Homo sapiens: one gene and its partners. The protein of the gene in region 2 purifies or fractionates together with the protein of the main gene of each other region. This does not show direct contact. Each region holds a gene or a part of one and is shown on either strand. Other genes may lie near its edges. The genes, in order: TENM3, TAFA5, DCBLD2, FREM2 and SDK2.

Region 1 (4,249 bases), on a different chromosome or scaffold from region 2:
AACATCTGCTATCTCGATTTAGAGGCAAATGTCACTTCACTTTCAATCCCTCTTGTAAGTATGAACTTCGTTTAAACAAAATAGATTAGATAATGTCAATTAATCTTAAAAGATAAAAGTTTGCTTCAATTTAAAAAGATAATATATCTTTATTTTTCAGAGGCTAATGATTGTGTGGAGGAAGGAGAGGCAATTTAAGAAAAACAAATATTACAAGGAGAAGCTCAAAATTTTTTTTATCAAAGAAAACATTTATCTAAGATATCTGAAGTATGCCTTCCATATAAAAGTGGTCTATTCAGCCTGAAGCCTGGAAAATTTCATATAATCCCATAAATTTCTTTGTATAAATCTTCTGTTATTTTTCTGGGGGGACAGAGTTTTGCTCTTGTCGCCCAGGCTGGAGTGCAGTGGTGCGATCTCAGCTCACTACAACCTTTGCCTCCTGGGTGCAAGTGATTCTCCTGCTTCAGCCTCCCAAGTAGCTGGGATTACAGGCACGTGCCACTACACCCGGATAACTCTTTGTATTTTTAGTAGAGATATGGTTTCACCATGTTGGCCAGGCTGGTCTCAAACTCCTGACCTCAGGTGACCCACCCACCTCGGCCTCCCAAAGTGCTAGAATTACAGGTGTGAGCCACCACACCCGGCCTCTTGGTATAATTCTTACTGGGGATGATGGAGCAACATGAAGCCAGTGTTTCTGGATGTTCACAGACTTGTGTTAAACCCTAAAGTAAAATGTGACACAAGAGAGATAAAGCCTCTATTGTTTAAAACAAACAAATAAAAAAATCATTTTCTTTCTCCTTTCAGAGGTAGTTTCGTGTCTGCCGGCAGAGTTCATGGGAAAATATAGCCAAGGCCTTTGATACAGAGAGGCCTGGGTCCAGATCCTTGCTCTACAAATTCTGTGACTTTGGGCCGATTCTTCACCTACATGAAGCTGGGTTTCTTTGTCTGCCGAACTAAGAGCAACTACTGCTCCAAATTGAAAGGACTGTTGTGACTGTTGCAATGTGATTAAATGAGACACACGGTGAAGCTCCTGGCACTTAACGGACACTGAATAAATGCCGATTTGCTTCCTTTTATTAGCCAGGTGTCATTTTATGTATAAAATTTCTCAGCTAAAGTACTGAGCCCAAAGGTATCCCAGAGCCTTTTTATAATAATTATGCCATTTAAATATGCAGGTAAATTCTGTGAGTAGGATAAGCCTCTACGTAACAGTGATCTGGAAAAAAATAACAATAGGAGGGACTCTGAAGGTCTATGAAGAAAGTCTGAGTGGAAAAAATCTTATTTAAAAGTCAGTTGCTCAATAAATTGTAAGTCAGTAGTTATGTTTATTGCATTCTTTATTTTAATATTCATGTATTTTAAGTATGCTGATTTGCCAACTGCACACTAAATCACATCGTTATTTAAATTTTTTTCCCTTTCAAATCTCCATGAAAGCAATTTCTACTCTCACAGCAGCATACAACTGATGGAGAGATTTTAGAGGTCTTAAAAGCTTTGCACTCCATATTTGTTTGACTCATAAGGAGCATAATGAAAGAAAGTCGTGTGTATACTTAAATAATTAAGAGCAATTGACTGGTCTGGACGTGTGACATTCTCAGCAACCACATTTTTTTGTTGTTTTTTTTTTTTGAGATGGAGTCTCACTCTGTTGCCGAGGCTGGAGTGCAGTGGCGTAATCTTGACTCACTGCAACCTCCACCTCTTGGGTTCAAGCAATTCTCCTGGCTCAGCCTCCCGAGTAGCTGGGACTACAGGCATGTACCACCACACCCAGCAAGTTTTTGTATTTTTCGTAGAGATGGGGTTTCACCATGTTGGCCAGGCTGGTCTCCAACTCCTGACCTCAGGTGATCTGCCCACCTCAGCCTCCCAAAGTGCTGGGGTAACGGGCATGAGCCACAGCACCTGCCAGCAATCTCATTTAATTCAAATGCAGGTATTCAAAGTAACATATTGAAATGAATAAAGTAACCCACTGTAATGGATAGATCTCATTTACAGTCACCAAGAATTTTATGTTCTGTGCATGTTTTAACCCAAAGTTGGAGAGAGCATCTTTACTTGTAAGATACACAGTGTCAGCATGTATCATGAAACTTAAACAGATTTCTCCCATTTAAGAAGACAGCACTTACACCTCGAGGAGGGAATAGAATTCTAGTGATTACTAAACAATCGACCATCTCATTTTATATCTTAAGTTCAGAGTTGTAAAAGGGTGACTCTATACTGGGAAAGAAGGCCCACCTAGTATGAAAAAGCATAGCCGTAATTTAATTTTCTCCCACACTTTTCCATTTTAACAGTAAAAGACAACTTCCCATCATCGCTTTTGTTTTGTTTTGAGACAGGGTCTCGCTGTGTCACCCAGGCTGGAGTTCAGTGGTGTGATCATGGCTCACCGCAACCTGGACCACCTGGGCTCGAGTGATCCTCCCACTTCAGTCCCCCACGTAGCCAGGACTACGGGCACATGCCACAATGCCTGGATAATTTTTTATTTTTGTAGAGACAGGGTCTCGCTATGTTGCCCAGGCTGGTCTGGAACTCGTGGCCTCACCCAATCCTCCTGCTTCTGCCTCCCAAAGTGCTGGAATTACAGGCATGAGCCACTGTGCCCAGCCCCCATGATGACTTTCTAAGTGGAAAGGTTTTTTTCAGTTCCCAAAATTGATAACCTGGAAATCCAGACCTCAAAATGCAGTCCTTTAATTAAGGCCCCGAACCCTTCAAATGAAGATGTCTTTGGGACTCTGGAACACTGAGAGGCTCTGCTGATTGGTGGGAAAGGCTCTTGTCTCTGGGCAAATCTCTCACTGTTTAGAGCCTTTAGATAGTTAAGAAAATCAAATGTGAACAAACCCTTGTTTGCATAACAAATTCTTATCCATCTGAAATGCCGCACCATTAAATAAGCTTCCAGCTGGAATCAGGTGACAGTTGGTGCGGGAGACCTTATCAATTCACCATTGCATGTTTAATATTCTATGCACTACGTGAGAATTTCTACAGTGTGAATGTTTTTAGTCAACAGAAATATAAAAATGCTTATTTTTAAAATATTAAATCTTCATTAACCTGGAAAAATGCGGTTAGCCAGAATGACTAATTTCCTGGAGGTTATAGATAGTTTAGGTTTTTCTCTACTAGCTGGAAATCATTCACACGTAAGAATTCTTTGGCTTTACAAAAAAGTCACTGATCTGTCCAAACATGAACCAAATTCGTTAGCGATTTCCCTCCAACATGTAGTACACTGAAGTGGGAAATCTGGGGTTTGGCAAAGGAAAACCTACATTCAAAATCTCACTCTATCCTTTACGAGTTGTGTTACCTTAGGTAAGTTACTTAACTTTTCTGTTTCTCTTTCTATTCCATTTCCTCATCTGCCAAATAAGGATAATAAGGCCAAGTGGTGCATTAAAACAAAAGATGTAACAGTTGAAAAATAACTAGAACAGGCCAGGCGCAGTGGCTCACACCTGTAATCCCAGCACTTTGGGAGGCTAAGGCGGGTGGATCATGAGGTCAGGAGATCGAGACCATCCTGGCTAACACAGTGAAACCCCGTCTCTACTAAAAATACAAAAAAGTAGCCGGGCGTGGTGGCGGGCGCCTGTGGTCCCAGCTACTCGGGAGGCTGAGGCAGGAGAATGGCGTGAACCCAGGAGGCAGAGCTTGCAGTGAGCCCAGATCGCACCACTGCACTCCAGTCTGGGCGACAGAGCAAGACTCCGTCTCAAAAAAAAAAAAAAAAGAAAAAAGAAAAGAAAAAGAAAAATGACCAGAACAGTGCAGACCACATAGTTGTTTGCAATCAAATCATTTTTAACAGCTGACTAAGCCTAGACAACATAGCGAGACTCCATCTCTTAAAAAAAAGTAGCCAGGCATAGTGGTGCATACTTGTAGTCTCAGCTACTCGGGAGGCTGGGTGGAGGATCCCTTGAGCTCAGGCGTGTGAGGCTACAATCAGCTATGACTGAACCACTGCACTCCAGCCTGGGTGACACAGCAAAACCTAGTCTCTAAAAAAACTAAATAAATAAAAAATAAAAACCACTAACTAAGAATATTTATATAAAAACATCACAATTGCTCAAAATATTTGCAACCCCTCTCTATCAGACCCATCCTCAGAGGTCCCCAACCCCCACCACCACCACTTAGTGCCCTCACTGTGGGGGGACGTACATTTCCCACCCCATTCGTTGTA
Region 2 (4,249 bases):
TACAGAGCTGGATCCTGGGGCGAGCTGGGGCAGAGGCGTGGCGGTCTTCTTCCCAGGGAAGGGGACTGCTTCTCCCACAGCCACAGCCCTCCTGGCTGCCTGTATCTGGAGCCACTGGAACACATGGTGGCCGGGGCGCCTTCTCGGGGACACTGATGCGTCTCAAGACTGGGAGGGGGAGAGCGGTGCCCTGCACGGCCAAGGAGTTCACAGCCAGGCCGTCCTTTCTTCTCATTACTTCCGCCCGCCTATCGGCAGAGTTGGGGTCAAAATTGATTACTAATTGAATCTGGGTCTGCTCATCTGAAACCACATTCACTTTCCTCTCACCAGGAGCCTCCTGGTGCCTCAGGAGCCGGGTCCCAGAGACCCAAATTAAAACCGTACTGTTTTCAAGGGAGGCCAAACAAATTAGTTAGCTTAGTTAGCTTTGCTTCTTTTTGCACAGTGGGCATTTTCCAGGCTGCCATCTAATTTAATTTTTGCTTTTCTATTTTCTTGCTCTGCGTGCATAATAAGTTTCCTCGCATGTGAATTGCATTTGCTGAAGAGAAAACTTGTGCTGTGTTGGGTCGGTGTTGGAATTGAATGTGAGTAGGGTTGAAATCGGGGAGGCACTTGCTGCCCCTACCGCGTTCCGTGACCACAGGCGCTCGGAATGCCGGAGCAAGCCTGACTGTGCTCACTTGTCCATTGGTCGGTTTCTTAATTATTCATACATTTGCTCACTCACTCATCTGTTGAAAGAAGATGGATACCCATGGCAGCAGAAGAGGTGCATGGGGAAGTCAACTCAAAACACCCAATACAGAGAGCCATGCAGTGCTGCAGGTGCGGGAATTCAGACTGGGGCCCCAGAGTGCCATCACTTTTTCCCGCTGGGACCTCAGCAAGGATGCATCCATGAGGGGGCATTTGAATAGGGTATTGAGGGATGATGAGGAGCTCACCAGAAATGCTTCTCTTTGTGAAAAGAGGGGGCCAGTGGTTAGAGAGGAATTCTAGCCTCCAGCCTCCCCGGCCTTGTCTCTGAGCTAAAGCATTTCTGGGTGAACCATGTCCCTGCCTGTACAGGGCAGGGCTGTGAGCCTGTGCACCTGCATGCGAGATCCAACTTACGGAACCATCAGTGAAAGATTCAAACACAAACCAGCCACGCACTGTGGCGCTTTCCATCCTTACACACAGTATCAGCCACCGAGCCTCCCCTCCCCCAGGGCTGCCCTCTGAGGCAGGCACCCAGGTGCGTGATGCCCTGGCGGGCTGGCCAGGCCCTGCTTCTGCTCCTTTCTAGCTGTTTATGCAGACGCGCCAGGTTCCCTTTTCCATCAGCACACACGTGCTGGGTCCCGCAGCCACCACAGCACGGCACTGAGGACTGAGACCCTGTGTCCGAGTCCAGCGCTCACCCAGCCCTTGCCAGGCATGCAGTACCTGGCTGTACCTGGCCAGCCCGCCTCGCTGAAGCAAGGTCTTCCTTTATGAAGAGAGGTGCTGTCTCCCACAAGTTGAGTTCTCCTGAAACTCCTTTCCCAGGAAATCAAAGACTGCAGCCCAGTAGCGGGGGCAGCAGAGGGTGGTGGTTTGTGAGCGGAACTGCCCCAGAGCTGAGCCAGAGGGGTGAAGGGTGGTAGCCTCAAGTCTCGGTCGTGGGCGGGGGCAGTTTTCCCTGGGAGCTTTTGGAGGATGGTAAACTGCAGTCATGGCACAGCGCAGACCCATTGTCAGGGCCGCAGTGGCCACTGGGAGGTGCAGGACAGGCCGGGCTGACTGCCAGGTCTGGGGAGGCTGTGCCCAGGAAGGGGCAGGGCCAGAGGGCCTGGAGGTGGGTGTTGGGTGGAGCCTTATATTCTCCAGGCATGAGGCCTTGCGAGCCACCTGGGTCCTGGGCTGGGAAAAGAGGCAGAAAACAGGCAGGTGGGCACTGCCGGGTTCTGGGCAGAGGTATGGTGGCCAGAGTCTTTGCTTCTCTGTGGTTGGGAGTTTGAGGCAGGCGTGGGACAGCAGAGGCCTTGCCCGCTCTCAGGCAGTGTGGATGGTTGGCAGTAGACGCGCAGCCTTAGGCGGGTGGACGCTGAGGCCGTGGGTTTGGCATCTGTGCTTCACGTGTGGTTTAGAGTCCAGGTGTGAAGAAGAAGGGGCACCACGAGGGGGATCTGTGGTCAGCGTCACCTTCCACCCCACGTCCACAGCCCTGTCCTCATCCTCCAGCAGCAGGTCGGTGCGGGAGGGTGGAGGGTGCCCTGGCCACGTACAGGAGTCTGGAGATGGTCCTGTCCTTGCTGTGGGGATGGGGACCACACTGATGGCAGGGCCATTGGACCCTGGGCTGTGGGTCCTGGCAGTGACTGCAGGAGCCAGGGTAGGAGGGAAGTCACTTCTTCTCTTGCCTTTCCCCGTTGTTGACCGTCATCATGCCTAGCTGCTCATGATGCCCTAGCAATGTGGGGTTTAATTACAGGAGTGCAGGAGCAAAAGCCTTTCGGTTCTGAGAGGCTGGGCACAGCGCGTCATCTCCACCTCGAGGCGCCAACGGGGCCCCCAGGGCCAGCTGAAGGCATGTTGTGGCTGGGACTAGGGTGACGGGAATTTTCCACCAGGAGCGACGTGAATCACCTGCTCTATTGTACGCAAGAGACTGGGAGTGCGCCAAGGTCCCTAAGATGCGGTGTCTGTGGCCGAGTCAGCCTGCATCTACCAGTTGGTGCTCAGCCTGGCCAGGGGTTGGCCCCAGGGTGGCAGCTGGAGAGGCTGTGGCTGGCCCTGCCTGCCCCGTTCATCCCTTCGGCAAGTGGTGGTTGGGATAAGGAAGGCCCTGCTTCCCTACAGTTGTTCATACAACATGGGGACATCTGTTTGACCACAGAGCTCACAGGAGACCGCCTGCTGGCAGTTGGCTGTTCATGGGCAGCCCTTCCTGCGTTGAGCCCTGACCACCCTTGGCAGCCTGGCACCCCGCACTGGCCACCCAGCGCCATCCAGGAGGGGGTCTGGGCCCTCACCAAATCATCGAGGCCCTGATCTGAGGAAGGATAATGAAGCTGTTTTTCAGAGGGGCCCAGACCCCCACGTGGAGCACCGGCTTTGCTCTGGGCTGTTTACTGGGCACCCGCTCCCCTAACAACCTTCCTGAGAAAAGGACTCATGTTCCAGGTACCTTCCAGTACGCGACGGAGACCAGCTGGGTACCTGCCTGCCTCAGGAGGCACCCTCTCCACTGCTTAGGGGCATGGACATGTCGGCTTCCTTCTGGGGGCTCAGGGAGATCCCAGCATTTCTGGAGGCTTCCCGAGGCCATGGGCGACTGGGTGTACAGCCACATCCTCAGCCAGGTTGTGGGTCCTGGCCACCCTGGACCCCTCATGGCTTGGGGTCCGTGCTTTGTGGCACAGAAGCTGTGGGTGCTGGTGTGGCCCTCTGCTTGGCAGGCATTGCCAGCCACTGCATCACGCGACCGTGGTGGGGCTGTCAGGACACATACATCTCCGCGCAGACTGCTGCCACCCGCGGCCTTTTTGTTATGGAACCACTGCTGGGAGAGGGTGGCGTGTTATAAACGCTTGGCAAGCGGAGAGGCGCCTGGGGGCTGTTGGCGACACTTTCTTCCCCAGCACACCCCTCCGTTCCATTCTGCCTGGATCCAGATGGGGTTGGAGATGCCCTGGGATGCGGGCACCATGTCCCTCAGTTCTGAGCATGATTGGTTTGTGAGGAAGATGGTGGGAAGAGACCCTGCCCCCGGTTCCCTAGGACGTGGATGTGAATTGCTTCAGTCCAGAGGATGCAGCCACTTCAGGCCCAGCAGGTGGGCAGGGCAGGGCAGGTGTGTCTGCTGTTGGAGCCACAACTCACAGTGCCCTGGCCAGGGCCACTGTGGTGAAGTTGTTTCAGGGAGGAGCTGACTGCCCGGCCCGACCCATGGCTGTGGCGTGAGGGTACAATGGCAACTGTGCTAAAGGCCAAGCACTTTGCTTCATCAGAGCCCAGTTTTACCAGAAGGGAGCAAGCCAGTCCTTCTCCAGCAAGTTACCCAGCAGTTCCTTCCAGATCTCGGTGCGTTTAATTGTTGGAAAACCACACAGTAGCTGCATGGCTCTCTGACGCCTCTGTAGAGAGATGAGACGGTTGGAGCCAGGGTGTTCTGCTGCTGAGAACATGAAGTTCCTTGAATGTCCCCCTCTGTGAAGCGCCCCCACTCCCAGCTCCAGGGAGCACAGCTCAGGGTGAAGGAGAGGAGACCCCAGCATTC
Region 3 (4,249 bases), on a different chromosome or scaffold from region 2:
TACCGTAACTCCAAATGTAACCAAAGGTATGCAAACATGGAAATGAACGCCTAGTACATAGTATTGTTTTGTTCTTAACTGAAGTTTTCACGGGCATTTTTAAACCTTCAGTTTATTTTCTTCCAACTATAGTTTTTAAGTATAGCAAAAAAAAAAATTTATTTTCTTTCATAGGAAAAGACTGCATTGATCTAAGTTGTAGTCTCTGCTGCCATGTAGAATTGCTCTTTAAATATTTAGAGAAGGCCACTGTGTTGCAGGCCTCCTCTTGTGATTTATTGTTCCTTACAGCTAAACATGTTGACTCTCAGGCTTAGAAATACAATATTTTCTAGAAATAACTGAAATCATAGCAGGAAACAAACTTGTTTCCCTTGATAATATATTAATTTGATGGATAGGGAACTTGATGGCAAAAAGGGGAAAATAAAAACAGAACTTTTAGTAGAAACTAGTAATTGTTAAAAAATACTCATAGTTAACATATTCATAAAAAAAAACTTTGGTCTCTTTTTAAGTGTTTGCAATTATATTTTTTAAGATCATAAATAGAAATTTATTAGAATTTACTTTCAAGTTTTGTTATCAGTGATAAATAAGGTCTCAAAATACATAAAACATAGTAGTCTTACTAGTTGTTGAAAAACAAAATTTCAATTGAATTCAAAAAAGTGTCAGTGTCATAGTAGACTAAGTATCAGAGTTGTCACATAAAAAGCTTCCTTGTTTTCAGGAAAGTGCAGAGAGAGAAAGCCGTTCATCCAAAGTAATTTGTGCCACATAGAACTTCAGTCATTCTCATTTTTTGAAAGTTTGCCTGGATTCAGATAACTTTCTCTGACTTTCCCCATGTTGGTTCTTTCCCATCTTCTGAAGTATTTTCACAAAGATGAATTACTTTCTCATGCTGCAGGTACAGCTAGAGAGAATCAAGGGTTCTCAGAGGCAGGAGATCTCAGCATCTTTTAACTGCTTACCAGTTGTCAGAAGGCATGTACTAAGGCAGAATCCCAGACCACATGCCTGGATGGAGATCAGTCACTGAAAAGTGTTGCTCATCTTAAAATCTGATTGCATCTCAGACCCTCAAGGCTAAAAAGAGTCCTTAAATAATTTCCTTCCAGAATTAGGATCCCTGTATGCCCAAAAAGAATAACAAAGAATGAGTTGGTCTTCTCAGAGACCTCCTGTCTCTTTTTTAGGGGGATGGTAGTATATAAATTTATTTTTTGAACCTAAGAAGATGTTTTAAAGCCTCTGATTAAATCACACAGCATCCATCTAAACTTGATTATCTTCTCTTGTCTCACTAATCTTATGGAAAAAGCACATTTACCGTTGTGAATTCTGAGTGCTTTCTAGTCTAAGTCATTATTTCTGTTTATGGACTTCTCCATTTTTACAGCCAGGCTGAGAGTGATTTCATGGAAAAGATTATGTCATGGTCAGATTTGTGCCTCTGTAGTTTCCAGGTCCTCCCTCAGTGGGGCCCGTGGCACCAGCTGGCTGACCTTCTGAAAGGCTGCAGTAGCTCTTCTGTCTGTTCTCAACTGTAGCTATTTTACATATTCCCCTTATTTTCAAGCCCTTCACCCAGATATCTTCACCCACTCTCAGTTACCGCTCCAACTTCACAGAGAAAGTAGGGAGTTTCCTTCCAGTGAAACTCCCTTTTTGTGGAGCCTACAAACCTATCTGTATCCTCTGTTCACTGCAGTGAAAAGGGGGCTTCCTTATGTTGCCCAAGGCTGATTATATCACCTGTGCCCTGGTTCCCCTCGATCTACCTCTCAGGGACCCAATCTTACTGATTATCCTCTCCCCCTCCTGTATCTTCAGCCTCTTTCTCTCTTTTGGATACAGTTGTTTTAAGGAATAAAGAAGATGGTGCAGGTTAGACTCATTGCAGTGTCCGGCTCTGAGCCCCCAGTAAATATCAGCAGGTGCTGCTATTATCATCTTCATGGCAAGTAGGGGGTTGAGCGACAAAGGAAGAAACTAATATCCCAAGTGACCTTAGGCAGATCATTTTCTATATCTGGGCCCAGAATTCCTTATCTCTGGAGTGAAATTAGGGGATTAAATGATCCCTAAATCTCTCCCAGTTCCAGCATTATGCTGGCTTCTGACCTGGTCACACACACATTTCCAATTGACTTTCTTAACACCACATTGTTACCTTCCCATATATATATATATGAATGTTTTGCCATTATGATGTAACGTCATTTCAATTGCTGGATTATTTTCTCTTGTAAGGAGGATACCATGATTTATTCCCTCTCATTTTTGGGCATTTGGATTATTTCCAATTTTTCACTCTTACGCAGAAACAGGGAGAACATCTTTAAGGATGCATCTTTTTTTAGTTTCTGAGAATAAATTCTAGGAATGGAATTGCCAATAGATTTTTGTACATATTGCCCAAAAATGCCAATCAGTGAGATAGCATCAGTTTATATTTCCATTAAAAAATAACTGTTTCCTGGTAGCCTGTTCATCAATTAGTTGTTGTTTTAAATATTTGCCACTTTGATTAGCAAAAGTAGTATTTTGTTGTTTTAACTTTTTTTGTGTTGGTTGTTTAACTTGTATTTCTTTGATTACTAGTGAAGTTAACATATTTAATGGTTACTTGTATTTTTTAATGTATTACTAGTTAATCTCTGCTGATTTTTCTCTTAAATGTTTGGATTTGGCTTGTAATGCCCTACAATATAATAATTATTTAAAGTAACTCTTCTCATATGTAGAAAATATATTTTCCCAATTTTTCATTTGTCTTTCAATTTTATTTTAGTGATTTAAAAATTTAGGAAAATTTCACATCTCTACACAGATGGAATGAATAGTGTAACAAGCTTTTGTGTATCTGCAAAAGCTTCTACAGTTACCACCACATGCCCAGTCTTGACAAATAATGTTTATGGTATTTCCGTGAGGTAGAAAAATGTTGAAAGATGATGTGGTTAATTTTCCCTAGTGATTTCTGCCTTTGGTGTTAATATGGCTTTTGTTTGTCTGTTTTTGTCTTTGTAACTTCAGATGTAGCGCTGGCTGCAGTTCTTGTCCCTGTGCTGGTCATGGTCCTCACTACTCTCATTCTCATATTAGTGTGTGCTTGGCACTGGAGAAACAGGTTAGTACATAACTAGTTCACCTGAGTCCAAAACTACCAAATGTGAAGTAGAAGCTAAATATAGAAGATGAAAATGTTTACCTGTTTGAGAGTGAGAGTTAAGGTAATTATTAAAATGAAAATTTCATGCTTCTCCTTTATTCCCATTAAAAATAAATAAGTTCAATTCCACAATCAGTTACTAAGTACCTTTTTTGTATCAAGTTCTGCATTATACACTGGGATATGTACATTAATATGAACAATTTCTGACACATGATAGTTACATTTACTTAAAGAATGAGACACAATTCCTTTCTCTGAAGTGTTTAGCAGGGTTGACTAACAAGGAACTATATCATGTGGTTTGATGAGTTATGAACCATGAGAATTAACTGAAGTTTTTTCTTCGGGAAAGGGGACTCCTCAAGTTTGGCTTGCTTTGCCTTAAAGGAATTGTAGTTGGCTAGATAGAGGAAGGTAGATGTCTTTGTTTGGGATGCTGTAAGAAAATACCATAACCTGGGTGACATAAATAATAGAATTGATTTCTCACAGTTCTGGAGGCTGAGAAGTCCAAGATCAAAACACTGCAGATACTATGACTAGTGAGGGCCTGCCGTCTGGCTCATTCATCAACAGTGCCTTCTTGCCCGATCCTCTCATGGTGGAAGGGATAAACACGCTCTCTCAGGCCTTTCCTGTAAGGGCACCAATCCCATTCATGAGGACTCTGCCTTCATGACCTAATCACTTACCAAAGCCCCACTTTCTAACGGGGGTTAGGATTTCAACATATGAATTTTGGAGAGATGCAAATATTCAGACCATAGCACTAGCAAATGGCCCAACCTGAGCCAATTGTTTGAGTGAAGGCACAGAGATATGGAATGTAGGCAAAATAGTGAGTCATCGCATGTACGCTTGGCGTGGGAGAGTCCTGAGAAATAACCATAGAGGTTCAGTCTGGGCCTGGATCAGGAAAGGCTTTTCTGGAAGAGAGAAATTTAGATTTCATTCTATAGATGGAAAGTCACTTGAGTGTCAAGCAAAGAGGTGATATTGTCAGATGATTGTACAAAGATGGTGGCAGTTTTGAAGGGTAGATTGAAGAGGAGAGAGGCTGAGAGA
Region 4 (4,249 bases), on a different chromosome or scaffold from region 2:
GGAACTTGAGTGAGCTTCCTTGGCAAGCCTCCCATTGCCTTTCTGCATCAATGTGTTTGTTACCAAATAGCAGAAATTTCGCTTAGAAGGGGAAAACTTCAGCTTTCCAAAAGCTAGTAAACATGTTTCAAAGAAAAATAAGGTCAGGAGAAAAAGAATAATGCCTACAGATTATCCTTCAGATGCTGGCTAGAATCCCCTTTGACTTCTAGCCATAAGCTGGCCACATTGGACATCTTGGTCACTGCAGAATTTTAAAAGGCAAACTTCTCAGAACAGATGTGCACATCTTAATTTGGTGTCTGTAAGTATCAACCATTTCTTGATCAAGATAAGGAAGCAACACTGATACTGAGAGAGAGGTCATATGTCCAATAGTTGCCTTTCTTCTCTTAGGCAGCTCTGCACTTCATGTTCAGTTTTTTAAAAATAGACTGTAGTATCCTTTCATTGGAGAATTTACAAAAATATCATCTACAGCTCAAAAGTCCCACTAACGGCTTATATGAACAGAAAGTACTGTGTAGCCCAGGAGTTTATTTAGCAAGATAAATAGTGGTAATTTCTTAATCATTCCCCTTTCCTTTGCTTTACCTTCTGGCAGATGCTTAGCTACTTCTTTGGCTACCTCATAATTTGTATGGGAATGAACATGAATTAGGGAACTTCAAATAGTGCGTAGACTTTTCCCTACTTACCATTGGGTTCAATTGATGTAGACTGTTAGAGCAAGTATACTCAATCAACTTGCTGATATTTTAGTAGTTAACAGCTTCCGAGCCTATCATGCAATTTGGAGTCTGTCAATGAATATAGCAATCGGTGAAGCATTACTGTACGAAGTCTGTTTTCAGGCTTTGGGTCAAGCTGGTTTTATACCAAATTTCACTCTACAATGCATATTCTAATGAAGCTACTTTATATAAATTGGAGAGCTTATAAAATGCAGAACATTTCTATCCTATCCTACCAAATATTTATCCTTCTCTGTCCTCTATTCTCTTACTCTCCTCTCTCCCTTTTTCCTTCCCTTTATTCCCTTGAAAAAAGAGAATCTGTGGGAAATAGGCAGATATAGCTTTTTAAAATATAAAGTACTTGGGATTTTGCATTATTTTTCTTAATATCTATTTACTAAGTATGTAATTTAATATACATTAATTATTTTTTGAAACTCTTGTTAGTGGGAAGAATATGGTAAATTTTTTGTTAAATAAAATAGACCCTTATGTTTAGCATTTTGTTTTTAGAGAACTATTCTGGTACTATCAGAACAAATACATAAAATAACTTCCCATAGAGAACAGGATATAGCAATAATAGCTCCTTAGATACTCAGTGGCTTCTGACTCCAATCAAGGTCTTGTTGATATTATATAGTAAAAATAAAACCAAAAATAAATATTATTCAAGTGGCTCTTCTAAGCATGTGAATCATGAAGCACTGAAATATGTATTTTAATGATGATCTTATTTATTCCCATTTTTGCCCTTAGTTAACATTTACTGGTGCTCACCTAGGATTGGCTATTCTGAGGGATTGCATAGAAACCAAGCTCCACTTGCTGTCCTTGGGAAGGTTATAACTGAATGCAGCTCTTTATTTGGACTAAAGTGTCAGGATATGCATTAGATTCTCTCCTGAACCAAAAACACAACAGTCATTATCTGTGAACCATAATTTAAAAATCTTTCTAGAATAACAACAGCAGACTCCACTCTTGTTTGTCTAAAAGAGCCCTACTGGGTATGGATCATTCTGATGACAGATTTATACAAAATGATTCAAACCAGTAACTTAGTAAAATTGACCTTCGCAAAACCTCACTGGGGGAGTGCCTTGTAGAGCTGTGGGTGGGACTGCACATTCTTTTCCTCTTAGTAAAAGATAGGCCCACTTTATTCCAAGAATAACACTTAGCACATAAACTCTTCTTCCAGCTCGTTAGCAGCATTAGCACCTTCTGAATTCCACCCTCTCAGAAGAATCCACAGTGTTTGAACAATTTGCATAAAGGTCAGCTAGCATCCTGCTGCCAAGCCACTGCATAGCATTTGTGATAAGAAGGACCAACTCTAGGCTCAATATGAAGGGATTTAGTTCTGTAAGCAGCAAAAAAGCTTCTTTATCAAGTCATCTTACCTCTAATTCTTTTCCAGTGTGCCAACTCCAAAGTCAACATTAAAAATGTAAATGGACCTGTGTAAATATCACAGAGAGCTTTTCCTTATACATCTCAATGCTGAGAGTTAAAATATTCCCAGGTTAAAATTTTTTTAAAGTACCAATAATAGAGCTAAATACAATGACATTTGCTTTTAAAAGGTGGATATTTTATTTCTGCTTTTTGAAAATACTTATTTAGTATTGACTTGGAAGCCAATTTGGTCCTTTAATAAGTAAAGAAAATAATATGTTTAAAAATGTAAATGTTTTACAAATTTGAAACTTTCATAATTGTATTAATCAGAAAACAAGCACATTGCCATTCTTTGAAACTCATGTTTCTAGACATGACAGCAGTAATAAAAGGATGAAAACAAGTGTCTTCACTAAGCGTATGGCCAATAAATGGGACCCAAACGTTCAATCTGTTCAGTTTACCAAGGTTCAGAAATACGTAATTTAGCAGGAAACTATAAATACCAGTGCTATCACAGCCACACATACACACACACAGACATAAAATAACCAAACATCTCATTTCTAGGAAAGAGATAACACTAAAGGCATCATAGGTTTAACTGAAATACGTTATATGAAGTTTTACAAAAAGGTCAACAGAAAGCTCATTTGTGAAAACATACTCTCATGGGAGCTTCTTTAACATTAGTTCAGAGGTTAATATATTTCCTGGAGGTGTTTTCCTAGAATTGATTGCACTATTGCATGGTAATAACATTTAATTGTTAAGGAAACATTATATATAGGTTCAAATTATCCCTTAATGTTGATTTCTCCCCTTTTCCATGGATTTTGATACTAAGAAACAAAATGCTTTGAGATTTTGGTAACTATTTTGATTTTGATAAAACATGTTAAAATAGAAGGACATGATATTTTTCTATAGTTTCCATCAGGAAGAGTACATCAGAAACTTCTCCATAAGGAAAGAAAACTGACTCTCTCTTGAACTAGTGTTGACAAAATACACTAATGTCTTTCTTAATTTTATTTTATTAGGAGAAAAATCAGAATATTAAATTTGCAAACTTTTGAACAGCAGTAATAGCTCCTTAGACACTCAGTATCTTTCTTCCCTATCTTTCAAGCACATTTAATTTCTTTCCCCTGGTATTTGTTTGCTTTGTGTTTTTTCAATATTTTGTTTGCTAAAGAACAATAACAACAACAAAGCTGGTCCAGCCCTGACACCTACTTTTGCTTTTTTTCTTTCTTTCTTTTAATTTGTTGAACTATAGGTTTCTTTCTGAGATGTATTTTTCATTCTTCCAATAATGCTCTCTTTTTCATTTCAAAACCATTACCACTTTCAATATGTAATTAACATCCTCATTCATCAGAAAGCTGGTAAGTCCACACAGCATTTGTGCAGTATCCCTTCTGTGTAAAATGTTAAGGCTTTCAGATGAAAGAAAAAAGAACTTCCTGCAAAAGATCAAAAGCATCATACTAAATAAAATGATGACAATATGTGCCTTGATTTTTCTCTCAATGGAGGTTCAACATTGACATTTAAGATGTAAAAAAAATTACTTTGATGGTTTAATTAAGAATAATAAGTCAAATATCACATGTATGTAGTTCTTTTGGATGACCGAATACCTTAAAATGAACTAAATAACTGAAATAAAGTGTTAAAATGTTAACAGCGTTGAAGTTTTTAAAATTATAATTATCAAATGCACAATGTTCTTTTACTATGCCAAATGTTGCCTACACTGATTACATGATTGTCACAGTTTAAGTGAATTTCTACTATGGATCTTTATTTTCCCCAATGTTTGGATCATCCTCTCAGATAAGAATTGTCAGTATTGCACCTCAAGAAAGAAGAAAAAATAAGAATGTAAATTTTTAAAAGCTAGCATTAAAAGTAAAGAGCAGTACAATAAAAATCACTTAAAATAGAGAAAGGCAACTACTGAGTAAGAAGAAAAGATAATTTCTGTAAAAGCTAAATTTATGCACATTACAAAAAGTAGTCAAGTCAGTCTTCCATTGTGACTTCAGGAATTCAAATGCAAGTTGTTGGCAAAATATATATATACACACACACACACATAC
Region 5 (4,801 bases), on a different chromosome or scaffold from region 2:
GTAGAGAGAAGCACTGTGGCAAAAGATGGAGGGTCTCACTAGCTCTTTATTTCCCAGAAGAAATATCAGACACGCAGGGTAGACTTCTGCATTAAGCACCGCAGGCCCAGTGCCAGGGACCATAGTCTTTTGGGGCCCATGAAAATGTTTTGATTTCTTTTAAAATCAGAAAAAAATAAGTAAAGCTTTAGGCTGAAGAACATGTTTTAATATGCAATATTAATATACTTTTCCTTATGCCAACGCAGTTGCAAAATCTTATTTTTAATAATTTTGTTAGCAGGGAAAGGAGTCCACCGAGGCGAAGGCACCTGAAATTTTCCCAGTGCCCGGGAAATTTTAACAGAAGCCTGTTAACCCCAGCTGAGCTTCGTGGAGTAGGCGCTAGCTCTGGGCCACAGCAGAGGACGCCTCCGGGCTCTCTTGTTTGAATTCCTCCACCAATGTCCGGTTCTTCTACTCTTTACAAGCTGGGCTCCGAAGGAAAAAAGAAGAAACAAAGAACGCACGCTCCTTGGCACCAACTTCACTTTCTCAGGCTTCTGCAGGTCCCAGGCCTCCCGATGTCTCCCCCTCCGCCCTGAGCATTTCCAGACCTTGGAGAGCCTGACTTGGGAAGGGGAAACTGGAATCAATCGGTTGACCGACCCCCTTTTCCCAACCGCCGCCTCCCCACCAATCACTCCATGTCCGGAAGGGGGCTGGGGGCTCCCGACTATAGGAGACTCTGGGAGTCCTATGAGGCCTTTGAGACAGGGGCGCGAGCGAGGCTGGAAGGAAAGGCTGGGCAGAGAGCGGAGGGGCTCGCGCGCATCTCTCCCGGCGCGGCAGAAGGTTGGCACTGCTGCCCCCCTGCGGGTCCCAGAGCCGCTGGGCGCCCGCGGCCGCGCAGTCGGATTGTATTTCTGCGGGGCTCGCTCCCGGGCCTGGCTCGGGGCCGCCGCCGCCGCCGCCGCCCCTCCCGGCGCGCAGGCTGCTCTCCAGTCGCGGCCACGGGGTAGCGCTCGGCCCCCCTCTCCGCGTCTCCGCCTCCGCCGCGCTCGTCCCCGGCTCACGCTGCCCCCGCAGCTCCGGCTCGGCGCAGGCAGGAGCGGCTCTCTGGACGCCGAGCCCGGGAAGCGGAGGGCGGCGGGCTCGGCGAGCGGCAGCGGCGGCCGAGGCGCTGGGGCGGCCGTTGCTCCTCCGGCCCGGGAGGTCGGCGATCGCCGGGCGTCCGAAGGGGCGCCGCGTCCCCGGAGCCGGGGCTGCCCGCCGGGCTCTCCGTGCGTCTTCCCGAGAGCTCCGGCCGGGGCGCGGCGGAGGGCAGAGCCGCCGGTCTCCATCCTCGGGCCGGCAGGAGGCTCTGCGCCCGGGCGCCGGCGACAGCCCGCGTCGCGAAGCCCAGCACCCTCCCCCGCCGCCCCGCGGCTGGCGCGGACATGGGCGCTCAGGGCTGCGCGCCCGGCTCCGGGACCCGCAAAGTTTGCTAGCCGGCTGGGCGCGGAGCCGAGGGCGCGCCCGGCCCCAGCGCCCCCGGAGGAGACCCGGCGTCTCCCGATTCGGCGCGAGGGCGGTGGAGCCCAGAGGGGGTGGTTCGGCCCCGCCAGATGCTGCCTGCAAAGTTAGAGAGAAGAAAACTTCAGCTCCAGGGAGATTCGGACCGCTATGCTCACCGCGTCCCCCGAAACCGGCGCCCCTAAAAGAACCCCCGCACCCGCGTCTGCCACTGCGCTCGGCTCTGGCCGGGTCCCGGGGGCCCGGCGCCTGGAACGGCGGTGACTGCGTCGGCCGGGAGAACCCAACCAGGGGGCGGGGAGGGGGCGGGCAACGTGGCCACGGGAGGAAGTTTCCTGAAGTTGTCCATTTATTCCGGAGCTCGGCCGGCGACCCGGCCGGATCGCAGAGGCCGCCCTGTTTGGGAGAAGTCGGAGTTGGGGTGCTAAGGGAGAGAGGCGCCCTAGTCCGAGAGGGCGGCCTGGCCTCTTTCTCCCTGCTCGCCCCTCGCCTTCCGGGCGCGCTGCCGGGCTCGGACTAGTACAGAAGAGGAGGAAGGGTTGGGGTAGCCAAGCGCTGCCCCTCCCGGGCATATTACACCCCGGGGCACGGAGCCGCGTAGACTGACTGTTTCCTGGGACTAAGCCACGGGGTATCGGACCCCACCAGGATTATAAAACAGGGCGGAGGGAAGGGAGACCCCGAGGACCCCTCTCCAGGCTGGTCACCATGTGGGGGCTTTTGATCTGGACACTGCTAGCTCTGCATCAGATCCGCGCGGCCAGAGCCCAAGGTAAGGAGGGACCCCCACGTGGGGACAGGGAGGGGGCTGGGAGAGTGGGCGGGGGAGGGGCGGCGGGAGCTGGCCGGCCTCACGGTGACCTCCTGGACACCCGGCTTAGCCGTGGCAGAGCCCTCTCCAGGGAGTTTCAAGACACCCCATCTCCCAAGTTTTGGGGCTCTTTTGGGGGTGGGGCAGTCTCTCCGAGACTTGTGGCTTCCGAATGGGGGAAGGTGGGGACGACCTGGGGAGGCAGAGAAGAGCCCAAGGTGAAGTGGGAGGGGCGCTCCCCTCCCCCCGTCTGCTGTGGCTGCCCTGCGCCGGCTTGGGAGGGGAGCGACATTCCGTGCCGGGCTCCACGCTCGGCTACGCTGAGCTTCCCAGACCGAGCTCCTGGTTCCCTGCTCGGTGTCTGCGGGGAAGGGCAGGGCCCCTGCCGGGCAGGCGATGGCCTCCCCGGGGCGAGGGAGTGGGGTGGGCGAGCGCTGGATGCCGGGTTGCTCGCCCGGGGAGAGCAATTGCCCGGCTTGGCCACGTACGGGAGCCCGCCCCTGGCTGCTCGGCCAGCCGCTGGGGCTGGGGGTGCTTCGCTGCGCGGGCCTGGAGCCAAGGTCGCGGGTGCAGCCGCGGACCCACCGGGGGGTGGTGCACAGGGAGGGTCTGAGGCCTCCCCTCCTACCCATCCACCCACACCCAGCATCCCCGCCCCTGCCTCCAGCCTCCGCTGTTCGCTCGATAGTCTGTGCAGCCGCTCGCTGCTGTGACCTGTGGCTGCCGGGAGCAGCCTCGCGGTGGAGAAGGGCTGGTGGCTTTGGGTTTGGGAGTGCTACGAAGGATCCGAGGTGTGATCTGCGCTGCCCGCTTCCTGAGGGTGGATGCCCAGACGTCCCCCTGGTCCCCGGGCAGGTCCCCGAGGTGAAGGGCGGCTGCACCGGCGGTTCCTCGACTTTGGGGTTCGCCGATCCAGACAGTGGTGTCAGCGGTGTCCGAGCGGCGCCTGCTGGGGGCGGAGGGAGACGAAGCCTGGACCGAGCTCCAGGACTCGCAGGGCTAGGCCTTCACTCTCGCAGGCTCAGGAGGGGGCCAGACCCACCCTAGGGGTCCGGACTGTGGGGGCTGCAACCCACTCCCCACGCCGCCTCGTGCGCCAGGCAATCCAGAGAGCCAAGATCAAAGAGATGAAAATAATCAGCTCTCACTCACAGGGCTGAGGGGAGGATTTTACGAGGTAATTTACATAAAAGCACTTCGAAATTTTGTAACGAGCCCTATAAATGTAGGGTAATAAAAGTTATTATTTTTATGATCATCATAAAATCTTTGAACAAGCGAGGACCTCAGAGGTCATCTTATTCTAGTAGCCATTTAACAGATAGGGAAACTGAGGCCAAATGGCATTAAATGACTTGCCCAAGGCCACTCTGTGATCTGGGGGCAGAGGCAGGTCTGGAACCAGATGAGTTCTGAGCCTCTCTCCCTCAAACCAGGACTAGCTGCATGGGGTCTCCTTGGTCTGGGCCCCCTCTCTGAGGGGTCCCAGGAGGACCCTGATGCTGGCAGAATAGGAATGGGTTGTCCTTCATCCTGGAGCAGCCTCACAGTTGTGCTCTGGGACAACCAGTGTTACTAGCCAAAAGCCTGGACGGCGTGGAGGGACGGGATGCCAGCATCTGTCTGGACCCTTCTAACTTCATTGCTCTACAGACTTTTCAACAATGGTATGATTTCCCTGGGCAGGTGGCTCACCAATTCTTGTCTCATCTAGGACCAGGCCCTTATAGAGTCCCCAGGGCACCTGATGGCCCTTGCTTTGGGGTCTTCATGTGTCCCTTCCTGCCCCACGTCCACACCTGTGCCATCCACTTGAGGCCAAGATCCCACCCCTCCTGCTGAAGTTAAGGCCAGGTGGCCCCCTGTCCCTGCGCCTCCTGCGGGAGGGGCTTCCCTGTCAGAAGCAGAGAAAGTCTCTGTGATTGATTCACTTCCTCTCTGCCTTTCTTGTTTGCTGGCTTTTTGCGTGTCAGGCTGCCCAGGTCCCCTGCTGCTCCGCTCGTGTTCTCTGGCTCCGAGAGTGTTTTCCAGCATCGAGCCCTCTCCTGCTGTGTGTGTCCCTGGAGGCAAGCCTTGCAAAGGATTGTGGGAACGTGGTCCTAGGCTTGGCAGTGCTGGGTTTGAGTGTTGGAGGGGGTGGGATTAGGGCATGAGGTCCTTTCTTATCTGCTTTGGGGTTAGAGAGTGAGTTTTTTCCAGTCTCAGGCCATGACATTAATCCTTTGGGGGGTAGCTGAAGCCACTAGCACTGTCATTTCTGAGCCCACAAGCCTGCTTCTCCAGGCATGGCACAGAACGAGGGACGAAACAATTGTTCCTCCCTTGAGACAAACTTCACATCGACCACTGTCACCAGATTTTATCTGAGCCTAGCCTGGTTGGTTTTTTTTGGGGATGGGGGGTGGGTGCTGGACCTGAGCGACATCACCTGGGTATACTGAAAGCTAACATTTGACCATTGGCCGTATGCCCGATGGGTCACATGATGCAAACTCA

Evidence for each region.
Region 1: the proteins of TAFA5 (region 2) and TENM3 purify together in Homo sapiens (affinity purification with mass spectrometry; one large-scale study listed by BioGRID and IntAct). This does not show direct contact.
Region 3: the proteins of TAFA5 (region 2) and DCBLD2 purify together in Homo sapiens (affinity purification with mass spectrometry; one large-scale study listed by BioGRID and IntAct). This does not show direct contact.
Region 4: the proteins of TAFA5 (region 2) and FREM2 purify together in Homo sapiens (affinity purification with mass spectrometry; one large-scale study listed by BioGRID and IntAct). This does not show direct contact.
Region 5: the proteins of TAFA5 (region 2) and SDK2 purify together in Homo sapiens (affinity purification with mass spectrometry; one large-scale study listed by BioGRID and IntAct). This does not show direct contact.

Annotation. Positions count from the first base shown.
Region 1 is NC_000004.12:182,249,596-182,253,844, reverse strand, and holds part of TENM3 (teneurin-3), read right to left. Parts: intron 1-4,249.
Region 2 is NC_000022.11:48,649,599-48,653,847, forward strand, and holds part of TAFA5 (chemokine-like protein TAFA-5 isoform 1 precursor), read left to right. Parts: intron 1-4,249. UniProt on the Homo sapiens protein: Acts as a chemokine-like protein by regulating cell proliferation and migration through activation of G protein-coupled receptors (GPCRs), such as S1PR2 and FPR2. Stimulates chemotactic migration of macrophages mediated by the MAPK3/ERK1 and AKT1 pathway.
Region 3 is NC_000003.12:98,806,971-98,811,219, reverse strand, and holds part of DCBLD2 (discoidin, CUB and LCCL domain-containing protein 2 precursor), read left to right. Parts: coding exon 1-26; intron 27-3,045; coding exon 3,046-3,139; intron 3,140-4,249.
Region 4 is NC_000013.11:38,882,107-38,886,355, forward strand, and holds part of FREM2 (FRAS1-related extracellular matrix protein 2 precursor), read left to right. Parts: 3' UTR 1-4,249. UniProt on the Homo sapiens protein: Extracellular matrix protein required for maintenance of the integrity of the skin epithelium and for maintenance of renal epithelia. Required for epidermal adhesion. Involved in the development of eyelids and the anterior segment of the eyeballs.
Region 5 is NC_000017.11:73,641,490-73,646,290, reverse strand, and holds the start of SDK2 (protein sidekick-2 precursor), read left to right. Parts: upstream 1-1,845; 5' UTR 1,846-2,202; coding exon 2,203-2,266; intron 2,267-4,801.